4 linked regions of the Homo sapiens genome follow. The protein of the gene in region 1 purifies or fractionates together with the protein of each later gene. This does not show direct contact. Each region holds a gene or a part of one and is shown on either strand. Other genes may lie near its edges. The genes, in order: ASB1, ARL1, RAD23B and CHCHD3.

The links.
Region 2: the proteins of ASB1 (region 1) and ARL1 purify together in Homo sapiens (affinity purification with mass spectrometry, with the first as the bait; one large-scale study listed by BioGRID). This does not show direct contact.
Region 3: the proteins of ASB1 (region 1) and RAD23B purify together in Homo sapiens (affinity purification with mass spectrometry, with the first as the bait; one large-scale study listed by BioGRID). This does not show direct contact.
Region 4: the proteins of ASB1 (region 1) and CHCHD3 purify together in Homo sapiens (affinity purification with western blotting; one study listed by BioGRID). This does not show direct contact.

The regions. Positions count from the first base shown.
Region 1 is NC_000002.12:238,446,900-238,451,022, reverse strand, and holds part of ASB1 (ankyrin repeat and SOCS box protein 1), read right to left. Parts: 3' UTR 1-4,123. UniProt on the Homo sapiens protein: Probable substrate-recognition component of a SCF-like ECS (Elongin-Cullin-SOCS-box protein) E3 ligase complex which mediates the ubiquitination and subsequent proteasomal degradation of target proteins.
Region 2 is NC_000012.12:101,397,402-101,401,524, reverse strand, and holds part of ARL1 (ADP-ribosylation factor-like protein 1), read left to right. Parts: intron 1-351; coding exon 352-463; intron 464-4,123. UniProt on the Homo sapiens protein: GTP-binding protein that recruits several effectors, such as golgins, arfaptins and Arf-GEFs to the trans-Golgi network, and modulates their functions at the Golgi complex.
Region 3 is NC_000009.12:107,286,060-107,290,182, reverse strand, and holds part of RAD23B (UV excision repair protein RAD23 homolog B), read right to left. Parts: intron 1-4,123. UniProt on the Homo sapiens protein: Multiubiquitin chain receptor involved in modulation of proteasomal degradation. Binds to polyubiquitin chains.
Region 4 is NC_000007.14:132,977,309-132,981,431, reverse strand, and holds part of CHCHD3 (MICOS complex subunit MIC19), read left to right. Parts: intron 1-4,123. UniProt on the Homo sapiens protein: Component of the MICOS complex, a large protein complex of the mitochondrial inner membrane that plays crucial roles in the maintenance of crista junctions, inner membrane architecture, and formation of contact sites to the outer membrane.

The sequences.
Region 1 (4,123 bases):
CACACTGAGAGGTTCGGGTTTGGAGCGGGAGGAGGGGAGTGAGGCATAAGTGAGAAAGGAGGTCACATGGCCCAAACAGGTACTTCCAGGAGGCCAATCCCAGCCGGTAGGGATCCAGGCCCCGGGAGGCCAGGCCTGCTTGCCGAGTACCGACGGCCAGGTGAGGAGGCAGAAGCTGTAGCCCCAGAGCCAGAAGACCCACACTAGTGTCATCACCAACATACAGGGGGGCCACAGGCTCCCAGTGCCCAGGTTAAGGTGCAGTCCTCACCGAGAAGGCCACATCAGCTTCCTGTGAGTGTGTCCCATGGATCCAGGGGTGGCCAGAGGCCCATCACCACGGGTGTTGGCACTTCCTAAAACCGCACGCAGCGATCTCCAGACTCGTTCTTGGCCATGAGCAGCAGAAATGCTGCAGTGCTGCCTGCCAGCGTACAGGCTGTTCAAGAACCCAAGAGGAATTTCTCACCAATACGTAAACATGCACCACAGCTAGACTGCGGTTCCGTGACTTTGGGATTTCAGAGACAGGCGAACTTAAGAAGAAATTCTGGGGCTGACAAACAGCAACCAACATTTTGTTTTGCAACCAAGAGCATTTCAAAAAGCAAAAATATTGCCCTCTACTTTTACCTTCATTACATAAAAGGAAATTTTATCATCCAAATAAGGAAGAAAATAACTTCAGAATAAAGAACAATCCTTTAAGTTGAACAAATGTGACTTCATCAATTATTTACCATGCTGTTCTCATACGCCTCACCTGCATAGAGCGCTCTGTCCCCAGTGCTATGCTGTGGGCCACAAGGACTCTGGCCCATCGGGGTCCACAGTCCAGCCCGGATCTCCCAGGGTCACACGTTCATCCAGCCCTGTCACCATCTCAAATGCATTTCCACTAAGAAGAGGGACAAGTCACCAGGACAGCAGTTTACACACACATGGAGACTGCTTGCGTAACACATTGCTTCCCATGTGACCCCACAAAACCCTGCCAGAAAGGCACAGCAGGAAGCCTTGTCCCTGTCTGAAGTGGAGCTGCCTCTGTTAATAGGGATGTGGCCAAGGCCGCACGGATGGCAGCAAAGCACAGGCCAAGCGTCTCTCTCAGGCAGACTCTTCCTTGGCTCAGTCCTATGTCTGCTGTATCTTCCTCTCCTTCTCTCAAGAACTTTTAATTTGAAGAATCAATTCATTGAAAAAGGAAAAAGAAAACTTACTAAAAACAATTGTTCCTTCTCTTTAAAATTACCTGTTTAACAAGTACATTTTAACAATGTACTAAATTTTCAAATGTCAAAAGAAAACACCAAAAAACAAGCATTGTTGCCTTAAACACTTTTCTGGAACAAGGCAGAATATAAATAAATAAATAAATAACACGAGTGATGCAAAGAGTCACAGAATGTGGGTGATATTGATGGGTTTATCTAAAACCCCTCACCCGGGACTCCAAAGCTGAATTCTCAGAGTTACCAACGTTGTCCCCCACCCCACCACAGCCCAGCCCAGCCCATCTGTTGACAGCAGCCAAGGCCCAGGGCCCAGGACTGTTCCACAGCCACTGGCAGTGGTGACAGTCAGATGCTTCTGGGATGCAACCAGGGGCAACCTTCAGGCTCCTTCCCCCAGCCCATCGAGCCCCTCTCCTAGGGAGGACTCCGGGCCAGCCAGGCAGCAGCCTCACTGAGGACCACGTTTCCCTGTCCCATGGGACTTGGGCGCCCCAGGGCTTAGAAAGGTGATTTCCTAAAGTGCTTAGGCGGAAAGTGCTACTCTTCCTATTCTGTAACCTGTCCTTGCCAACAGAAAAAAAAGGGAGCTTTAGTGAAGGAAGGCAATGCCACTAAAACCCAGGAGGAATGACCTTAGCTACCCACCCTGTTTTCAGATTCATATTTGGCAGCTATGAAACAAGATACCAAACCTCCAAATTGTTTGGATTCTGAAAAAATTGGCAAAGGCTGGCTTGAACAGAGAGGAAGTTGAACATGTCCTCTGCAAATGAAAAGCTGAGACCCTAGACACCTGCAGGCCAGCCAGGCTGGGCCACAGGCCAGGGAAGGGCCATGAGAGGCCCCCTCCTCCAGCTCATTCTCTCCCCAGATACATCATTCCCTGGCCAGGTCTGGGTGAGTCTTCTCTGCAACGATCCATTCAGTCCACTCCTCCTAGAGAGACCAGGGGCAGTGACCTGGTCCCTCCAAAACAGGCCCTGGGCTGTGCAAAGGAGCATGACGCCCATGCTGCCACATCTGGGTCCTTGCCTCTGTGCAGCCTGAAGGTCACACCACCACACTCACGCATGGGACTCCCACGAGGCAGCATTCCCAGGTGCTGCTTCCCAAAAGGTTCAATAACTGAGCCACCTCCTGCACCGGGCAGGGCTGGGGAGGCCTCGTCCTTAACAGGCCCCTGCAGAAAGTACTCAGTAGAGCAGACGCAGAGCGTATCATGTGTCTACAACATGGCTCACCTCGAAAAAAGCCACCCTCCTCTGAGCCCAAAGGGTGGCAGGAAGAAGAGCCTCGAGGTGGGAGGAGCTAAACAGTAAGCCAGTAAAGAGCCAGAGTGCAGGGAGCTAACCAGCCTCCCTGAAAGCCCCTATCAGCCCTACCAGGGTGATGAGCCACTGCCTACGACCTCCAGTGACAAGGCCCAGTCCACGGTGGTGGCTCCAACTTCCGTATCATCATTCCTTAACTCCCTATAGCTCCTGCCCCAGCCACAGCCCAATTTTTGTCCTAGTCCCACTTTGGTACCACAAAGAACACGCCCACCCCCTCTCCCGGGCTGAAGCCCCTGCAGCACCCAGCCCCGGCTGTCCTGGCCCTCCCCAGCCGCTCACCACCTGCGGTTCCTCTCCTATCTTGGGAAGACCCTCCTGGCTTCAGCAGGACCCAATCCCAAGCTCCCCTCGGGAACAGCACACAGCCCACATTTACACAACCATCACAGCTTCTAACAGTGTCACCTCAGCTGAGGAAACACCTCCCGGATTGCATTTTCCCCTCTGAATCACCCGAGGACTGTTCTTCCCTTCGGAACTGCATCTGCACATACACGGGTCAGCTGGGGTGACCCACACAGAGCCCATTTGTGACACAAGGGGTTGGGGGTATAGAATTCTATCCTCTGGCTGTAGAACGCAATAATGGCCAGACACTGCCTGCCTGCTAAGACACACAGTGATGCTACTAAGTAAATAAAACGGTATCATTGTTCAAGTTTTACAAATTGGATTTCTCTTATTACAGAAAATCAAACACAGATTTGAAATCTGCGCCTTCCTAAATATATCTGAAGTCTAGAATCACCATGGATCCACACAATGGTCCTCATGGGCTTCAAATGACGAAATGTGATTCACTGGAAACAGCAGCAACCTGGGAGGGCTCTGAGGCTGCAGCCACCAGCCCACCTGCCGGTGACCCTCACACCTGGCTGTGCAGCCCTGGGTAAGGGGAAGCCCAACTCATGCAGCCAAAGCTATCAGCAATGATAACCCAGGCCATCTCTCTCCCGGGAAAGACTTCTGACCTCACTGCTATCCCCTGCATAGATTCTAGAAGCAGCGACCAAGACAAAAGAGAGCAATCAACCAACCGCCAGATGTTCTGTCCACTGGACAGCATGCGCCTGGAGGCTCATAACCACCCAGAGGACTCGCTGCATTTTTCACTTTCTGGTACGTGTGGGGGACAGAAGACAGCGCCTCGGGCATTTTCCTCGCCTATTAGAACTGGCAGTGAATGCTGTTGGAACGGTCCTTGGTCCCAAGGAAGGCAGTCATTTCCTGGGGAGTTTGGTGTGGGCCTCCTAAAATCAATCACTGGAAGCTCCCTAAGGTGAAGTGGCAGAAAAATCGTGACACCTGATGAGAGGCACAGTAGGTGTTGGAACAGGTGCCGTGCAGCCAGGAAACCACCCTTGAGTGAAGACACTCACTATGAGACCTCCATCGCAAAGAGAGAATACTGAAGGGGCAAGGAAGGGGCGTGTATGACAAGCGCATGTGTTACCCCAGGAGCAGGAAAAACCAACCAGCAAGTTCATGAACTGCATTTCTGTCCTCTATTTTGCTTACGAAACTCCCTTTTCATTGAGATACTAGAAGGCTTTA
Region 2 (4,123 bases), on another chromosome or scaffold:
AGCTGGGATTACAGGCACCTGCCACCATGTCCAGCTAATTTTGTATTTTTAGTAGAGATGGGGTTTCTCCATGTTGGTCAGGCTGGTCTCGAACTCCCGACCTCAGTTGATCTGCCCTCCTCAGCCTCCTAAAATGCTGGGATTACAGATGTGAGCCACCGTGCCCAGCCAATGTTTATCAACATTCTTTTGACTCCATCACATCTGAGGGATATGGTACATATATCCACCAGAAACAGTGAATCATTAAGGCATTGATTCTAACATGTGTGGGACAGAATTGGCAATTGATATGTCAGTTTCTTCCTTAAAACAATAACAATATGTTCTCCCCTTTTAAATTTTCTCTAGGCCATACTGGAGATGTTACTATTCAAACACAGATGCAGTCATTTATGTAGTAGACAGTTGTGACCGAGACCGAATTGGCATTTCCAAATCAGAGTTAGTTGCCATGTTGGAGGTAAGAAAACGTAACCACTTTAAAATGTGGGGCAGTCATTTACATATTATTACATTGAAGAATAATTAAAAAGAATGCAGGGGTTGTTCCCTCCATCCTTTTAAAATTATTTTCTTTTATGGAAATGATTTTCTATTCCAAAAATACAGTTGAGGAGGGTTGGAGACAAAACAACAACAAAAATTAACCTCGTAACTTCCTCTTCAAGCCAGATTGCTTGATTTTCCAGGAGGTTCAGAAGAGCTCACTTAAACAAAAGCATCTATTCTAAGTCACTTCTTTGATGTGACTTTTAAAATATGTCTTTTTATTTTTAGCTGTTTTAGAAGGATTCAAGTTCAGAGAAATATGTATTTCTGGGTTACTGGCACAATGCTGGCCTCACGTTTATCGTTTTTTATCCTTCCCAGTGTTTACAGTGCTTTTGACCTTCTTTCTGTTCTTTGGACACGAGCTTGCACACCTGGCTCAGGGCCTTTTGCACTTGCTGATCCGTCTGCTTGGAATACTATTCTCCAGCATCTTTGCATGGCTGCCTTCCTGACGTGTTTCTTCCCACATCTCTTCCCCAGAAAGAAGTCTTATTTATTCTCTAATCCTTTACCCTTCTTTATTCTTTATACCGATATTGTTTCTTTTTTTTCTTTTTCTTTTTCTTTTTTTTTTCTTTTTTTTTGTAGAGACGGGGTCTACCTATGGTGCCCAGGCTGGTCCCAAACTCCTGTCCTCAAGTGATCCTCCTGCCTCGGCCTCCTAGTGTTGGGATTACAGGTGTGAGCCATTGCACCCCACTTACTGTTTTTTTACATTATTTTTAAATGTATTTGTTGGCTGGGCGTGGTGGCTCACGCCTGTAATCCCAGCACTTTGGGAGGCCGAGGCGGGCAGGTCACCAGAGATCATCAGGAGTTTGAGACCAGCCTGTCCAACATGGTGAAACCTCATCTCTACTGAAAATACAAGAAAATTAACCGGGCATGGTGGTGTGTGCCTGTAGTCCCAGCTACTTGGGAGGCTAAGGCAGGAGAGTCACTTGAACCCAGGAGGCAGAGGTTGCAGTGAGCCGAGATCGTGCCCCTGCACTACAGCCTGGGTGACAAGAGTGAGACTCTGTCTCAAAAAATAAAAATTAAAAAAAAATATATTTGTTTACTTATGTATCTCTCCCTCTAAAATGTAAGTTCTTTGAGTTTACCCTGATAGGAGGAACAATGTATAGTACTTAATTAAGAATTCAATACATCTTATTCACTGAAGTTAATAAGATCATATATTGGCTAACTGATCAAATTCAGAGGATGCATTAAATAATCCATTTTTAAAAAATGAAAAAATAATCAAATGTACTATGATAATAATAAAATTGCCCTTGCTCTGGAAAATTAGATGGATAAGTTTCTTTCTCTTGTCAAAAACTGGATTCTGAATTGTTTAATCAAGGGATGTTTAAATATAAGTTCTAGGCCAGTTGATACCTAGGTAAAAGCATCCTCAGACGAGGGGACTATGTACTTTTGAATTCTTTTTTTTTTTTTTTTTTTTTTTTTTTTTTAGACAGAGTCTTGCTCTGTCGCCCAGGCTGGAGTGAGTGGCGTGATCTCCACTCACTACAATTTTCGCCTCCTGGGTTCAAGCGATTCTTCTGTTTCAGCCTTCTGAGTAGCTGGGACTATAGGCTTCTGCCACCACACCCGGCTTATTTTTGTATTTGTAGCAGAGATGGGGTTTCACCATGTTGGCCAGGCTGGTCTCGAACTCCTGACCTCAGCAGTTTGCCCGCCTCCTGATCTGCCAGCCTTGGCCTCCCAAAGTACTGGGATTACAGGCATGAGCCACCGCGCTCAGCCCAGGACTTTTGATTTCTTGAACTACTGACTTAATGGCTTCCAAGTTATAAATTGCAGACTTAATAGTTTTAAACATTTGGTTAATTTTTTTTTTTTTACATCATAGCATTATATTTATTATAAGAGCTTCTTAGACCAAATTTAAATGTAAGGATAAGGTTTAATTGCCTTGGGTATAATAGGTTTTTTAAAGAACAGTTTTATTTAGGTATAATTCACATGATATAGTGTATTTTTATCATATAAAGTATTGCTTAAAAGGAATGGATTATTGACTTCAGTTTACAATTTTTGAGTTGTGCAGGATTGTTGTTACTTGCAGTGTTAGGATTTGACTTATAAAGTCTTACAGAGAAAGAAGTAAAAGTTGGATTCTTTCTTTAGGAAGTCACTTTTAATTCATCAATAAATATCATGTTATGTTAAGTATGGGCCAAGTACGAGTCAGGACTGTTAATGTTAAAACATATAGACACAGGCCAGGTGTGGTGGCTCACGCCTGTAATCCCAGCACTTTGGGAGGCCGAGGCAGGTGGATCACTTCAGGTCAGGAGTTTGAGACCAGCCTGGCCACCCATATCTACTAAAAATACAAAAATGAGCCGGGTGTAGTAGCGCACGCCTGTAATCCCAGCTACACGGGAGGCTGAGGCAGGAGAGTCACTTGAACCCAGGAGGCGGAGGTTGCAGTGAGCTGAGATAGTGCCACTGCACTCCAACCTGAGTGATGGAGTGAGACTCCATCTCAAAACAAACAAACAAAAAATATATAGTATAGACACAAAAGCAGTTTAGGTTTCAACTTTTTTTTTTTTTTTGAGACGGAGTTTCACTATTGTTGCCCAGGCTGGAGTGCAGTGGTGCAATCTCGGCTCACTGCAGCCTCCACCTGCCAGGTTCAAGCAATTCTCCTGCCTCAGCCTCCTGAGTAGCTGGGATTGCAAGCGCACACCACCACACCCGGCTAATTTTTGTAATTTTAGTAGAGACGGGGTTTCACCATGTTGGTCAGGCTGGTCTTGAACTCCTGACCTGGTGATCCACCCACCTCAGCCTCCCAAAGTGCTGGGATTACAGATGTGAGCCACCGTGCCTGGCCTTTCAACTTTCCTATACACAAAAATGAATTCTAAATGGGTAAATAATTAAATGTAAAAAATGAAAATTATAAGAACATATAAGGAATTCAAAAGATGAGATTTAATTATATTAATGTAAACAAAACTCCCCCAAAGCTCAGATATGGCAAATATAAACAAGATTAAGATAAGAAACCAGGCCTAACCAGAAGCCAATGACTAAGGATTAGTGATCTGAATCATAGCAAGATCTTTTGCAAAATGAGCAAAAGGCAATTCGTAGGGGAAAAACATTGCTAATAACATTTGCATTTGTTTTTAAAGAGACAGGGTCAGCAGGGCGCGGTGGCTTATGCCTGTAATCCCAGCACTTTGGGAGGCCGAGGCGGGTGGATCATGAGGTCAGGAGTTCGAGACCAGTCTGAGTGACCAACATGGTGAAACCTCATCTCTACTAAAAATACAAAAATTAGCTGGGCGTGGCAGCGGGCACCTGTAGTCCCAGCTACTCAGGAGGCTGAGGCAGGAGAATCACTTGAACCCAGGATGCAGAGGCTGCAGTGAGCCAAGATTGCACGACTGCAACTTCAGCCTGAGCAACAGAGCGAGACACTGTCTTAAAAAAAGAAAAAAAAAAAAGAGACAGGGTCTCCCTCTGTCCCCTAGGCTGGAGTGCAGTGGCACAACCAAAGCTTGTTATAACCTTGAGCTCCTCTCTCTGCTTCCTTTTTTGT
Region 3 (4,123 bases), on another chromosome or scaffold:
CTTGTAGACATTCTGTCTCGATTATTTCCAAATTCTCAATCAAATAAAGACTAGGGTCATCAAGTGAAAATAAGCAGGCTAGATGATATGAAAGCATCCTGTGGCAGTGGAAGAGTGACTGGACTAGTAAACTGTAAGACTGTCAGGTGCTGCATACTAAGGACCCAATTAAGGTTCCTTAGTGTGCCTTAATGTTCCTTAGTGCTCATGAACTTAAGTTCCTTAATGTTCATAAATTTAAGCAAGACAAGTCAATGTGGCTACAAGGTGCATCTCTGGCCACTCAGGTGCAAGTACAAACACTGAGTTGAATTTAATCACATTTGAGGCTTTCTAAGCAAGAACAATGGAGGGAGAGTGGTACCACATTGCCAAGCACTGTTAATATTATTTCAAAACCCATATACCAATAAGTTAGTACTTTCATACTAGTATTCTCATTTTACAGCAGAGGACCAAAAGGCACATACTGAGTAACTTGCCTGAGGTGACACAGCAAGTGGTACAGCCAACTGTACCTCTCAAAACATATCCTAATTCCATCTACTTCTCTACATCTCCACTCCTACTGCCCTGGTTCAAGCTGCAATTACTTAAAACTACTGCACAAGCCCCCTAACTGATGTCTCTGCTTTTCACTCTTGCCCACCCCACAGCATCAAAGTAACCTTTAAAAATCCTACAAGAAATATTTCTTGGCTAGGTGTGCTGGCTCATGCCTGTCATCCCAGCACTTTAGGAGGCTGAGGCAGGAGGATCACTTGAGGCTAGAAGTTGGAGACCAGCCTGGATAAAACATCAAGACCCCATCCCTACAAAAAAAAACTAAAATTAGCTGGGCGTGGTGGCATGCCCCCGTAGTCCCAGCTACTGGGGAGGCTTAGGGTGGAGGATCACTTGAGCCCAGGAGTTTGGGGCTGCAGTGAGCTATGATCATGCCACTGTACTCTATCCTGGGTGACAGAGCAAGACCTTGTTGAAAAAGGAAGGGAAGGAAGGAAGGGAAAGGAGTGGGGAAGGAAGGGAGGAAAGGAGGGAAGGAGAGGAAAGGAGAGGGAAGGGGGAAGGGAGGGAGGGAGGGAAGAAGGGAGGAAAGGAGGGAGGAAGGGAGGGAGGAAGGGAAGAAGGGAGGGAGGAAGGGAGAGAGGAAGGGAGGGAAAAAGAGAAAAGAGAGACAGAGACAAAGAAACAAAGATTTCTGTCCTGCTTGTAAATGTTTCCAAGTTTACCCTGAAAACCCCTAGCCTAACTCACTTGCCTAACTCACTCTCTTATCTCTTACCCAACTCACCCTTATCTCTTACCCATCACCTTAGCAATGCAGGCTTTTTTTCAGTACCCAAAACACATTCTTAAAGGTCTTTGCTCTAGCAGTTCCCTATAGAAAACATTCTCTTCATTCTCGAGTGCTCATTTTTACTCAGCTCTCAGCTTAAATGTCACCTTATTCAGAAAGGCCTTCAGTGACTAGTAAATTTAAAAGTAGCCACCCAGATCTCCTGAGCTCAGGAGTTCAAGACCACCCAGGGCAACATGATGAAACCCTGTCTCTACTAAAAATACAAAAAAATTAACCAGGTGTGGTGGGGCACACCTCTAGTCCCAGCTACTTGGGAGGCTGAGGCAGGAGAATCGCTTGAGCCCCAGAGGCGAAGGCTGCAGTGAGCCAAGATGGCGCCACTGCACTCCAGCTTGGGCTACAGAGTAAGACTGCATCTCAAAAACAAAACAAAACAACAACAAAAATGTAGCCACCCAGTGAAGTATTATCAAATACTTTATCCTATTTCAACTTTCTGCATAGCACTTACCATTACCTGGTTTTTAAAATGTATTTTTTGACAGTTTTATCCCACTAGAATGCACATACCATCACAGCAGGGCCTGACATCTAGTAAGTACACAGCAAATATTTATTAAATAAATAAATCAACATGCAAACACACTACGTTGGGGGATCACTGCTTTGCCAGTTCACCAAAAGAATATATTCAGTTCATTCAAAGATCTTTACTAAATGCCTACTGTGTGCACGGCATCAAAACAGCAAAAGTCTGGCAAAAATGTACCAGATTTCTCAGTTTCTTCCTGTATCTTGTTCTGCCAATATGCCAAGAACTCTTAATTTCACCTCTGTGATATAGTATTTTTAATACATTTACTACTCATTACCTTAATCTAGGAAGCTTGTATAATATGAAATTGTATCTAGCATGACTATATTGAAAATACAATAAACCACCACAGGAATACTTCACTAATAAATGATGGCTAGTAAATACTGTATAATACAGAGCAAGTACTAAAGCAATATACACACACAGTTTTTTTGTTTTTTTTTTTTTTTTGAGATGGAGTTTCGCTCTTGTTACCCAGGCTGGAGTGCAATGGTGCGATCTCAGCTCACTGCAACCTCCTCCTCCCAGGTTCAAGCGACTCTCCTGCCTCAGCCTCCTAAGTGGCTGGGATTACAGGCATGCACCACCATGCCCAGCTAATTTTCTATTTTTAGTAGAGACCAGGTTTCACCATGTTGGTCAGGCTGGTCTGGAACTCCTGACCTCAGGTGATCCACCCGCCTCGGCTTCCCAAGGTGCTGGGTAAAGCAGTATTTTATAACAATCACATTATAGAGGTAAACCACGAAATTAGGTAATTCTTCACAGCACACTAATATGCTATTTATAGATATTAAAACTGATGTCTTTGCAATTCTCTTAGCAAAAACATCCAATGTATATGTAGAATTTTAATGTCACTTATATACTAATCCAATCACATTTCAGCTTTTGCATTTAAAGTCTCATCTCAAATTTACTGAGTTTTGTTTTTAGTTGTTCAAGGCAAACAGTGTCAAGAGTTAGACTGCAGGATTAATTTGTATATCACATACTTTTTCTTGTCACCATTTCAGTGATGCAATAAAATACTGCACTGTATTTTTTTTATCTCAAAAGGTTTATTCCTAAATCTACCTTTCTTAATGTTTTTAAGCAACAGTAATATAAAACACTAATTGACTATAAAACTGAGCTTAAAAACTGTATTCCATTTCCCTCTAAATGTCCATCACACCATTAAACTTCAGAATTTTTTTTTTTTTTTTTTGAGACGGAGTCTCGCTTTGTCGCCCAGGCTGGAGTGCAATGGAGTGATCTCAGCTCACTGCAACCTCTGCCTCCTGGGTTCAAGCGATTCTCCTGCCTCAGCCTCCCAAGTAGCTGGGACTACAGGTGCATGCCACCACGTCCGTCTAATTTTTTGTATTTTTTTTAGTAGAGACGGGGTTTCACCGTGTTAACCAGGATGGTCTCGATCTCCTGACCTTGTGATCCGCCCACCTCGGCCTCCCAAAGTGCTGGGATTACAGGCATGAGCCACCACACCCAGCCTAAACTTCAGAATTTTTAAGAATTTCAGAGAAGCAGTGCTCTATCACACATCTCAAAATGCTTTAATATGTAGGCTACTTAAAAGTCTCCCACAATTTTTACAGTAAAAAACAAAAAAAGCACATAATGAAGAAAATCTCCTAGCAATGGTCTCCCTACCCCACACATACCACCTTCTCATTTTGTTTCTATATTGTTTGAATATTTTATAAGAAGGCTTGCATTACAATTGTAGAAACAAAAAGATCTTTGCAAAGATTAACACTAAAGGCAGTGGTCATGTAATGTATCACAGTAATAGTCAAGTAAATGGTACAAAATGCCTAATAAGTCTAAGAAAGTTTTGTTAAAACTAGGGCAAATAAAAACACCTTAAAACAAATTATCTTGCTCTTTCCATTTTGTATATCCCCCTACTCTATAGCCAATGAGCTTTGACTAAGTCAATAAGGCTCCCAGAAGCCCCAGACCACGTTCTACAGGTCCCTGTACTCCTCCAGTCCTGCCAGCAAAGCTCACTAAACATTTACTTGTTCAACAAATGAATCATTCCCATGATTCCACTTATCTCACAGTCCTTTCTTCCATTTTTGCTCATGCTCATCTCAAGCTCACAAGAGTTGCTATACTGGCTACGTAAGTTACTTAATTTCCTTGGTTCCTTCTAGGTAAAAATTAAACAAGGACAAATCTGTGACCAGACCAAAAACAGGTCTCAATAAGATCCTATC
Region 4 (4,123 bases), on another chromosome or scaffold:
AATTCCTATAGGAAAGTTTACTCTTTAAGATGTTTAAGAAGTATGACTTTGGAAGTCAGATCACCATCTTTCACACCTCTGTTGTACTTCTCAGTTTTTCTCATGTTAAAAATGGAGATAGTAGCTGGTGTGGTGACTTGTGCTTGTAATCTCAGCACTTTGGGAGGCTGAGGTGGACAGATCACTTGAGCCCAGTTCAAGACCACTTGAGCCCAGTTCAAGACCATGTGGACAACATGCTGAAACCTCGTCTCCACAAAAAAAAAAACAACCCAAAAATCAGCCAGGCTTGGTGGCATGCAACTGTGGTCCCAACTGCTTGGGAGGCTAAGGCAAGAGGATTGCTTGAGCCTGGGAGGCAGAGGTTGCAGTGAGCCGAGATCATGCCACTGCACTCCAGCCTGGGCAAGAGAGCAAGACCATGTTTCAAAAAAACAAAAAACAAAAAAACTAGAGCTAGTAATGCCTCCCTTATGGAGGTGAATGAAGTTCAATATGTTAATGCCTTGCTAAAGTTATCTTTAAAATTCTCTTTCTACTTTCTTAAAAACTTGAGGTTCTTTAGAGTAAAGTCAAACTGGCTAGTTTTTACCCTGGGACTAAAATATAGAGAACTAGATTTTATACCTGCTGTCCATGAAAGTTGAATGTTTTATAAGTAGTTAATTTGTTTTCCCATTTAAAAGGACATGTAATAATATTTATTATAGGAGATTTGGCTGGCTTTTAGGAATTCATTTTGCTGGTGTACCTTAAGTCCCTCGCCTGATTGACAATATACTGAGGAAAGAGCTAAGTTGCTAGGGCTTGAGGTCTAAGGGCAGCACTGACTGGTATTTGTTTCATTAAGCTTAGGCAAGCTATCCAATTACTTAATGCAAACAAGAAAAGTTTACACTAAACTCCTACTTCTTTGCTTGAAACTCTAGAGAATTTAAATGAGGAGAGATATGTATTTAAAAGAAAGAAATTTAAATGAAACTTAAATCAGGGACTTAATGTAGAATATATTAGAGCAGGAGATCTAAAATATTAAGTGGGAAATGCCAATAAATAAAAAAGGAATGTATTCTCTAAGATACTTGGCATGTTTAGTTTTGTTTTGAGATAATTCTTAAATCTTTGGAAACCCAAGTTAATAATGAGAGACTTATTTTATCTCCTGCCTTTACATATAAAGTCCTGCCTTCCCTTGGTCAGTGAGAGCCTGGGTCTTCTCTCCTTAGTGAAGTGTTCCCAAAACAACATGGCTTCTGATTTTATAGCTCCACTATCTGGGCAGTAGTTTTCAGAGAGGCCCAGATGGCAGGGCTGTCTTATTTGGTTCAAAAAGAGAAAAATTGGTTGACAGCTCATCTACCTTTTGCAGATGGCTGTTGAATAGTATAGCTCCATGCGGTATAAAACCAAGGGGCCAGAGAGGAAGCTTTGAAAGTAATTGGGGGTTTCTGAAAACATAAGCAGTTTTTCTTTGCAAAGTGGTTTTGGCTCAGTAAAGAATTTACAGGAACCATTGAAAGAGGAAACTTAGAAGAAAATAATTGCCATGCAATATTTTGGAGGGGAGGGTTGGGGAAATGGAGAATGGTACAATTTTGAAGTTTCAAATCTATTGCTTTTAAATGGGAAATGGTACAACTTAGAAGCTTCTCATCTTTGGGCACTGGTCAAAACTGAACCTCAGTCAGTATACCATTGAAACTCTGTCCTCCAAGAGAATCTGAAAGCAAGTAAAATTCTTTGCAGAGGTGATTTCATGCCTCAGAGACCCTTCTAAGTGTCACAGGAATCTAACTGAAGGAAATCCTTTCTTGGTGCTTCTGGACCCAACTGATGTTTCCTCTGCCTAAGACACTTTCTCCTTCCCCATGTTGCTCAGTTAATGTCCTGTAGAGCTCAAGTTAAATATCAGTCCCACCCATGCAGTGTCATAGATACCTACCTAACTTTTTAAAAATAATGCATCTGTTATTTGTAATCATGGCTCATGAAAGTAGGGACTGTGTCTCTTGCTCACTACTTCATTCTCAGTAACCAGAGTAGTCCCTTTCACCTAGTAATTATATACTGAATAAATTTATGAATTCCAGTGTGTAGTTTTTGTTGAGTACTGTAGTGAGAAATCTCAGGATTACAGTAGAAGTATATGTGCCCATCGAGTAGAAATTATAACAGTATCAAGCTGGGAGATAATATAATGCCCCTCTGTTTTATTTATCCCCTGCCACCACCTTTTTCAAGATTTTTTATGGAATGAGGAATAATATGTTTAAGGTATAGACTTTTTAGAATGTTTATATGCAAAGGACCATAAGATTATATAGTAGTTCAACCTTCAAATTTTAAAACTGAGGAAACTGAGGCTTATTAGATTGTACAGCTAAGTTGTTGATAGGAAATGAGAATTTGTTCAGAGTCCTACTGCCAAACTCCCTGATGACAAAAAATTTGGTTTCTTAAACAGTCACCATACAGACCTTAAAAAAAGTTTTTTTAAAATTTATAAACATTCCTTTAAAAACATTTGAGAATTTGTGCAGTTCTATTTGTAAGGATGAATGAAAGTATAAGAATTTATTAAGAAAGGAAAATAATATTCTTTTTAGTCAGTTTGCACCACTGCCAATCCTCTTTCAATCCAGGTGTCAAATATAGTTAGGTGTTGATGTTGGAGGGGCTCTGGACTGTTGTGGCACCTCCTGTTGTAGGCTATTTAATGTAGCCTGGGATTATATCACAGATGTGCCACATCTAACATGGTGGCTAAGCCCTTGGAGGATACAGTTTGTCTCGTTAGTTGTTTCTTATATACCATCGCCTTGTGTTCTTTTGCAGTTTGTTTTCCTTGTTTTGTTTGTGGTTAGAAATATGCCATTTATTTATTTATTCATTCATTCATTCACACATGCATACATCAACAACTTTTTCTTGCGTGTTTGATATGTGGCAGGCACTTTTATAAGTATGGGGGATATAGCAGTGAACAAAAATAGGGCAAATCGTTGTCCTTATGGAGCTATGGACAAGAGGGAAAGGAAGCAGCTTGTGAAAGGGTCTAGCTGCTGGAGTTAGTAGAGTCAATTTGTGATTTTAGAAGTCCTTAGAGATCATAAAAATAAAGCAGAATTTATTGGTGAAAAATTGGAAAAGATGATGGAGATGGCATTGTAGTTAGTGAATTTGGAGATTGTCTTCTTCATTTCGTAAAATCACTGCTTTCTCTGTATTCCTACCCGCATAGTGGGTACTATTATTATTACTGCTACTTACCTAACATTTATTGAGTGTATATTATGTTATGGGCATTGTGCTGAGTGCCTTGTTTATATAGAACGCTGTAAGGTAGGTATTACACTATTTCATTTTACCCATGAGAATAACAGGACTCACCGGAGATTAAATAAAGTACTTATTCAGATAGGAAGTTTAGAGCCTTGATTTGGACCCAGAGTTTGCATATCTGTACCAGTCATGGCAAGCTAAATATGTTTATTTTTATTATCACATTGAAGGCTTTTGTGCTCATGTTTTGCTTCTTTTTCATTAACTTGCCAAAATCCTTATGATCCTGTATTTCTTAAAGTTGAACCATGTAGAACTCCATATGTAATTAAAATCTAAGCCATACATAAGTAAACTAAAATGGAAAAAAAAAGTAGTAATTTTTAAACAGTACTTTAAAATTAGATACACCAAATGTGGTAGATGTGATAATTCAGTTGAACAGAATTCATTTTATGTTCATGAACTAATAATAGAATTTGAATAAACATTTTATATATGTTTGTAAAGTGCCTAGCACAGTGCTTAGTAGTTGATCCATAAATGATAGTAATTTTATTATTTTATTTTAGTTTCCACCTCACTGGTAAAAATAGGTAATGCTTTTTTACTTAGGGGTAAGATGTCCATACAAATGCGTTAAATACAGTATTGTAATCTGATATGATAACCTCAGCAGTTATTTGCACAATATTCTCATGGGGAGCACTTCATTTTTGATGTTACTTTCATTTACCTCCAGGATTTATTTGAGTACAAGTGTATTTTGGTAATTAAGGGCTGTAGTCTTAAACTTTAGCATGCATCAGAATTCTAGAGGGCTTATGAAAAGACAGTTTGC